2 linked regions of the Homo sapiens genome follow. The gene in region 1 interacts genetically with each later gene. Each region holds a gene or a part of one and is shown in the gene's direction. Other genes may lie near its edges.

Region 1 (3,500 bases):
AGGCAGGAAACCAGTTTTCATTTTTTTTCATATCAAACACTTGTCCCAGGTTCATGTATTTATAGGACCTTTCCCCTACTGATATAATGCGAGCCATCATAAATCAAGTTTACTTATACATATAGGCATACGTTTATTTCTTGGCTCTTTTCTCAGTCCCATTGACCTATTTGTCTATTCCTGTGCTGATACTACCTGTCTTGATAATTATAGCCATAACTTTGTTATAAATCTTACTATTTTCTGACTGTTGTTTATGTACAGAAACATGATGCTTAATGATTTTGTATCTAAATTACCTTATTAATTTAAATAATTTACTTTGCAGATTTTGGGGACTTTGCTGCATAGCCATTCATATCATCTGCAAATGGTGACAGTCTAGTTTCTCCCTGTCTAATCCTTTTTTTTGAGAAAGGGTCTTGCTCTGTCACCCAGGCTGGAGTGCAGTGGCGCAATCTCTGCTCACTGCAACCTCCACCTCCCGAAATCAAGTGATTCTCCTGCCTCAGCCTCCCGAGTAGCTGGGATTACTGGTGTGCACCACCATGCCCGGCTAATTTTTATATTTTTTTTAGAGATGGGGTTTTGCCATGTTAGCCAAGTGATCCTTGAGAGCCTCGGCCTCTCAAAGTCCTGGGATTACAGGCGAGAGCCACCGTGCCCCCCACCACCCTCCCTGTCTAATCCTTATATCTTTTTTCTTTCTTTGCTCAGATTTCCAGCACCATGTTGACTAGAAGTGTTGACAGCAAGCATACTTATCTTGTTTATGATTATAAAGGGAATGCATTTCTTTTTATCATTAAGGTGTGATATTGCAGTCATTTAGATAAAATTGCTACATTTTTTTTTAAGTCACCATCTCCTAATAACTTCTAAGGCATGTTTTATAAACGAATCCTCAGGGAAGAGTTCTAGCTATCTCCCAAATAATTCTGTTCTTTTAAACCAAAAAATCTCCGTCTTATGTTTTTGTTAAAACTCTTTATTTTGGATTTACATTTACTTACAGGATTTAATGATCCATAACTGTGGGTCTTCAGAGTCCAAGCCTTTGTGAAATAAAATTTCATGGAACATGAAAAAAAAAATATGGTATTAGCTACAGTTATACCCTTTTTGGGTTAAGGAAGTCTGTTTCTATGTAGAGTTTTGGGATTTTGTTTTGTTTTTGTTTATGTATTTGTATTTGTTTTTTAATGATGAATAAATCTTGAAGTTTACTTAATTGATTTTTCTTTGTCTTACTGAGGTGTTCTTCGTCTTACTGAGGTGTTTATCATTTTCTGCTTTAATCTGTTGAGGTGGTAAATTACAGATTTTTCTGATAGTGAATCACTTGCATTCCTAGAAAATATTCCAAAGGATCATAGTGATTATATTTTTAAATATAATGTTGTATTTGTTGTGCTTATATTTTGTTTAGAAATTGGCCTGTAATTTTCTTCTATTATACACTGAAACCCCTGCCTCCCGGGTTCAAGTTATTCTTCTGCCTCAGCCTCCGGAGTAGCTGGGATTACAGGCACACGCCACCACTCCCAGCTAATTTTTGTATTTTTAGTAGAGACAGGGTTTCACCATATTGGCCAGGCTGATCTCAAACTTCTGACCTCGTGATATGCCTGCCTTGGCCTCCCAAAGTGCTGGCATTACAGGTGTGAGCCACCGCGCCCAGCCTTCCCTGGTTTTAATATTAAGGTTATTCTAGCCTCATATAATGTACTGGGGATTCTACTCACTCTTTTCCCTTCTTTGTTAGATTTTGTTTAAGATTGGAATTATTTGTTCCTTGAGGGTTTGTTACAACTCACCTGCAAAACTGTCTAGACCTGTTCTTCTCTTCGAGGGAAGACTTTAAATTACTTGTTTAACTTCTATAATGGTTATTATTATATTTATCAGGTTTCCTCTTAAGTCAGTTTTGGTAAGTTAACTTTTTCTGGAAAGGTTTCCATTTTGTATTGTTTCAATATATAGGCATAAAGTTTCTGGTATTTTTTTAAAATTTTCTGCTCTCCATATAATATGTACTCTCTTTTTCTCATATTATCTATTTTGCTTTCTCTTGTTTTTTTATAGTAGCCTTACCAAAGCTTTTACAACACTTTCAGTCTTTTTTTGTCTTTTTTTTTTTTTTTTTTTTTTTTTTTTGAGACAAAGTCTTGCTCTGTCGCCCAGGCTGGAGCGCAGTGGTGCGATCTTGGCTCACTGCAACCTCCACCTCCCGGGTTCTAGTGATTCTCCTGCCTCAGCCTCATAGCTGGAATTACAGGCGTGCACCACCATGTCTGGCTAATTTTTGTGTTTTTAGTAGAGACGAGGTTTCACCATGTTGGCCAGGCTGGAACACTTTCAGTCTTTTCAGAGCACCAACCTTTGTTTATTGTTGATCTTCTTTGTTATAAGTTATGCAAAGGATATTTATTGTACAACATGGTGACTATAGTTAATATCAGTGTATTGTATACTTGAAAATTGCTGAAAGTAGATTTTAAATTTTCTCATCACAAATAATAGATATGTGAGTTAAGGCATATATTAGCTTGATTTAGCTATTTCACAATATATACATATTTGAAAACATGCTGTACACCATAAATGTATATAATATTTATCAATTAAAAAATGAAGACTATATTGAAAGTTATTTTTACATTGTAAATTATGTTTTTATTCATTTTTTTCTTATTATCTTATTTTTCCATTTTCCGTGGTTTTTTTTTTAAACATGCAAATGGTGCATCTCACATAAACAGCATATGGCTTGTTTCCGGTTTGTTTGTATGGGGGTTTTTGTTGTTTTGCAGACTAATAGTCTCTTTACCCTTATAATTACTGATAAAATTACATTCCTCTGTTCAGACTCGTGGGTCTGTGTGTGTGTGCACATGCATGCACAGGTATGTGTGTTTTGGGTGGGATTTTGATTTTGATAAAACCTATAAAGATTTTGATTTTGATAAACATAAAGACTTTTGTATAGTCAGTATGTTAAAGCATTTTCTCTGTATTCTTATCTCCCACTTTACTTCTGGGAACACTTTTTTCTTTTTTCTGAGAGACAGAGTCTTGTCCTGTCACCAGGATAGAGAGCAGTAGTGCAGTCATAGCTCATTACACCCTTGATCTCCAGGACACAAGCCATACTCCCGCCTCAGCCTTCTGCCAAGTAGCTAAGACTATAGGCACCACCGTCATGCAGTCATGCCCAGCTAATCTTTCATTATTTTTATTCATTTGTCTCTATGCGTTTTTCTGTATAATTTCTTTGCAACTTTATTCCAGATTATAAATTCTCTTTTCAATTGTATTTATTCTGCTATTTGGCCTTTTTTTTTTTTTTTTTGAGACGGAATCTCACTCTGTCGCCCAGGCTGGAGTGCAGTGGCACAGTCTTGGCTCACTGCAAACTCTGCCTCCTGGGTTCAAGTGATTCTCCTGCCTCAGCCTCCTGAGTAGCTGGGATTACAGGCACCCTCCACCACACCCAGCTA
Region 2 (3,500 bases), on another chromosome or scaffold:
ACTGCCCTCCAGCCTGTTCAACAGAGCAAGAGTCTGTCTCAAAAACAAAAAAACAAAAATCATAGCATTCAACTACCTGGAAATTACCCTCTCCCTTCAGTTGATGTTAGGCTCTACTTAGACCAATTTAGTCAGTGTGCTTAAGAAAGATGTGGAGAGGGCAGGACACGGTGCCTCACACCTGGGATCCCTGCATTTTGGGAAGCCAAGGTAGGCAGATCACTTGAGTTCAGGAGTTCAAGGAGGCATGAGAACTGGGCAACATGGTGAAACTTCGTCTCTACAAAAATTGCAAAAATTAGCCAGGTGTAGTGGCGCATGCCTGTAGTCCCAGCTACTTAGGAGGCTGAGGTGAGAGGATCACTTCAGCCCAGAGGGTTGAGGCTGCATTGACCCAGTATCACACCACTGCACTCCAGCCTAGGTGACAGAGTGAGACACTGTACCAAAAAAAAAAAAAAAAAAAAAGATGTGGCAAAATTAACATGCACAGTGAGAAGAAGGGTAACACTGATTACTGATTAAGGCAGTACTCCTCTGGGTTTTTGTCTTAAGTGGATGTGATAGTGGCATCACTTACACGACCAGCTGAAGGAAGAATAGATTTGGAGGAGAAATTGAAAGTTCTGTTTTGGATCTGTGTTTTGCATTCTGACTGGAAATGACAAATACAAGTCTACAGCTCATTGGAGGTGTCAGAACTAAAACTGTATAACTGTATTAGAATTGTTTATTTGGCTGTGTGTCTTACCTAGACAGACCTTGAGGACAGACACTGTTGTCTTTGTAACCTCAGTGCTCTGAAGTGTATCCTCAAATACTTGTGAAATGAGTAAGTAAAGGCAAAAGTAAAAATGAAGTCACTGGCTGGGTGCAGTGGCTCACGCCTGTAATCCCAGCACTTTGGGAGGCTGAGGCGGGCGGATCACGAGGTCAGGAGATCGAGACCATCCTGGCTAACATGGTGAAACCCCATCTCAACTAAAAATACAAAAAATTAGCCGGGCGTGGTGGTGGGCGCCTGTAGTCCCAGCTACTCAGGAGGCTGAGGAAGAAGAATGGCGTGAACCTGGGAGGTGGAGCTTGCAGTGAGCTGAGATCGTGCCGCTGTACTCCAGCCTGGGCAACAGAGCGAGACTCTGTCTCAAAAAAAAAAAGAATGAAGTCACTTAGGCAAAATGTAGAAGATACATACTCTATGCTTTCACTGAAAGTCTAAGCACCTGAATGTGACTTACAAGTAGGGTGACCATAATTTCTGATTTGCTGAGAATAGCCTGGTTTATATCTGTTGTCCCTACCTAAGTATTAATATTGCCTGGTTTCACTCTCAGTAAAGTCTCCATTTGTACAATAAATTTATATTGTCATTCTTTTTAGAAGGCCCTTCCAGATCTAGCATCTTCCTATATCTTTATCATCACTGCCCTATCTTAGACTCCATTTGCCAGCCAGGTGGACATACCTTCATTTCTCATATGCACTCTTAACTTCAAGGTTTTTTTTGCCAAGGTACTGCCTACCTCACTTAGACATCACTTCCTTAGGAACACTTCTCCTGACCCCCCAATGGCTGAGTTAAGTCACCCTCTTACATGTTCCCAGTACACCTTGTATTTAACCTGTCATAGCAAAGATGACTAAGTGCCTTGTTCCCTCACTAAATATCTCTGTAAAGGAACCCAAAAAAACACCTTTTGTCCTCTTTAAGCCATAAATTTATATTAATAATATCCAAATCCATGTTGAACCAGTATTTTTGAAGATTGACCTTCAGGATAAACTAATAGCACAATCTTCATGCCCTTTCATTCATAAGTAACTGAAAAGGTTGACTTTTGTACCAGGAACCCAACGAAGAAAACTTGTATCTTGTCAGGGTTGGTAACCTGGCTGCCATTGACTGAGACCAAAATATCCCAACAGTTTGTCCTCAGCTGCTAAGCTGCTGTGGTTAGAATCAAACGTAGAGTTTCTGGCCTGGTGCGGTGGCTCATGCCTGTAATCCCAACACTTTGACAGTCCTAGGTGGGAAGATTGCTTGGGCTCAGGAGTTCGAGACTAAACTGGGTGACTTAGTGAGAGTTCAACTCTACAAAAAAATCAAAAAATTAGCTGGGCATGATAGCACACGCCTGTGGTCCCAGCTACTTGGGAGGCTGAGGTAGGAGAATCACTTGAGCTCAGACAGTTGAGGCTGTAGTGACCGTGATTGTGCCACTTTACTCCAGCCTGGGCAACAGAGTGAGACCTCGTCTGGAAAAAAAAAAAAAAAGGTAAAGAGACAACCTACGGAATGGGAGAAAATATTCACGACCCCTACATCAGATAAGTGGACAAGGGCCTGAAAAGACATTGCTCAAAAGAAGACATGCAAGTAGCATGGGAGGCCGAGGCGGGTGGATCACCTGAGGTCAGGAGTTCGAGACCAGCCGGGCCAACCTGGTGAAACCCTGTCTCTACTAAAAAAACAAAAATTAGCTGGGCGTGGTGGCGGGCGCTTGTATTCCCAGCTACTCAGGAGGCTGAGGCAGGAGAATCACTTGAACCCAGGAGGCGGAGGTTGCAGTGAGCCAAGATCACACCATTGCCCTCCAGCCTGGGCAACAGCAAGACTCTGTCTCAAAAAAAAAAAAAAAAGAAAAACAAAAGAAAAAGACATGCAAATAGCTAACTGGTATGTGAAAAAAATGTTCAACATCACTAATCATCAGGGAAATGTGAATTAAAACTACCATGAGATATCACCTCACACCTGTCAGAATGATTATTATCAAAAAGCGAGATAAGCATTGGCAAGGATGTGGAGAAAAACCCTGTACACTGTCAGTGGGAATGTAAATTAGTACAGCCATTTTGGAAAATAGTATGGAGGTTCCTTAAAAATTTTTGAATGGAACTACCATATGATCCAATAATCCACTTCTGGGTATATATCCAAAGGAAATGATATCTGCATGTCAAGGTATCTGTACTCCCATATCCATTGCAGCATTATTCACCATAGCCAAGACATGGAAACAGCCTACATGTATGCCAATGGATGAATGAATAAAGAAAATGTGAGATATAGATACACACACACACACACACACAGACACACACACAATGGAATACTGTTCAGCCTTAAAAAATAAGGAAATCCTGTCATTTGCAGCAACATAGATGGACCTGGAGGACATTATGCTAAGTGAAATAAGCCAGGCACAGAAAAACAAATACTGCTTAATCTCACTTATGTGTGGCATCTAAAAAAGTCAAGCTTGTAGAAGTAGCAGAATGGTGGTTACCAGGGGATGAGAGAGAAAGAATTGGAAGATTTTGGCCAAAGGATACAAAATTTCAGTTAGACAGCAGGAATAAGTGCAGGAGATCTATTATACTATATGGTGACTATAGTTAAAAATATATACTTGAGGCCAGGCACTGTGGCTCACACCTGTAATCCCAGCACTTTGGGAGGCTGAGGCAGGTGGGTCATCTGAGGTCAGGGGTTTGAG

What was found.
Region 2: changes in SDHAF4 (region 1) and ACACA together harm fitness more than expected from each alone (negative genetic interaction), as found in Homo sapiens cells (one large-scale study listed by BioGRID).

The regions. Positions count from the first base shown.
Region 1 is NC_000006.12:70,569,930-70,573,429, forward strand, and holds part of SDHAF4 (succinate dehydrogenase assembly factor 4, mitochondrial precursor), read left to right. Parts: intron 1-3,500. UniProt on the Homo sapiens protein: Plays an essential role in the assembly of succinate dehydrogenase (SDH), an enzyme complex (also referred to as respiratory complex II) that is a component of both the tricarboxylic acid (TCA) cycle and the mitochondrial electron transport chain, and which couples the oxidation of succinate to fumarate with the reduction of ubiquinone (coenzyme Q) to ubiquinol.
Region 2 is NC_000017.11:37,400,337-37,403,836, reverse strand, and holds part of ACACA (acetyl-CoA carboxylase 1), read left to right. Parts: intron 1-3,500. UniProt on the Homo sapiens protein: Cytosolic enzyme that catalyzes the carboxylation of acetyl-CoA to malonyl-CoA, the first and rate-limiting step of de novo fatty acid biosynthesis.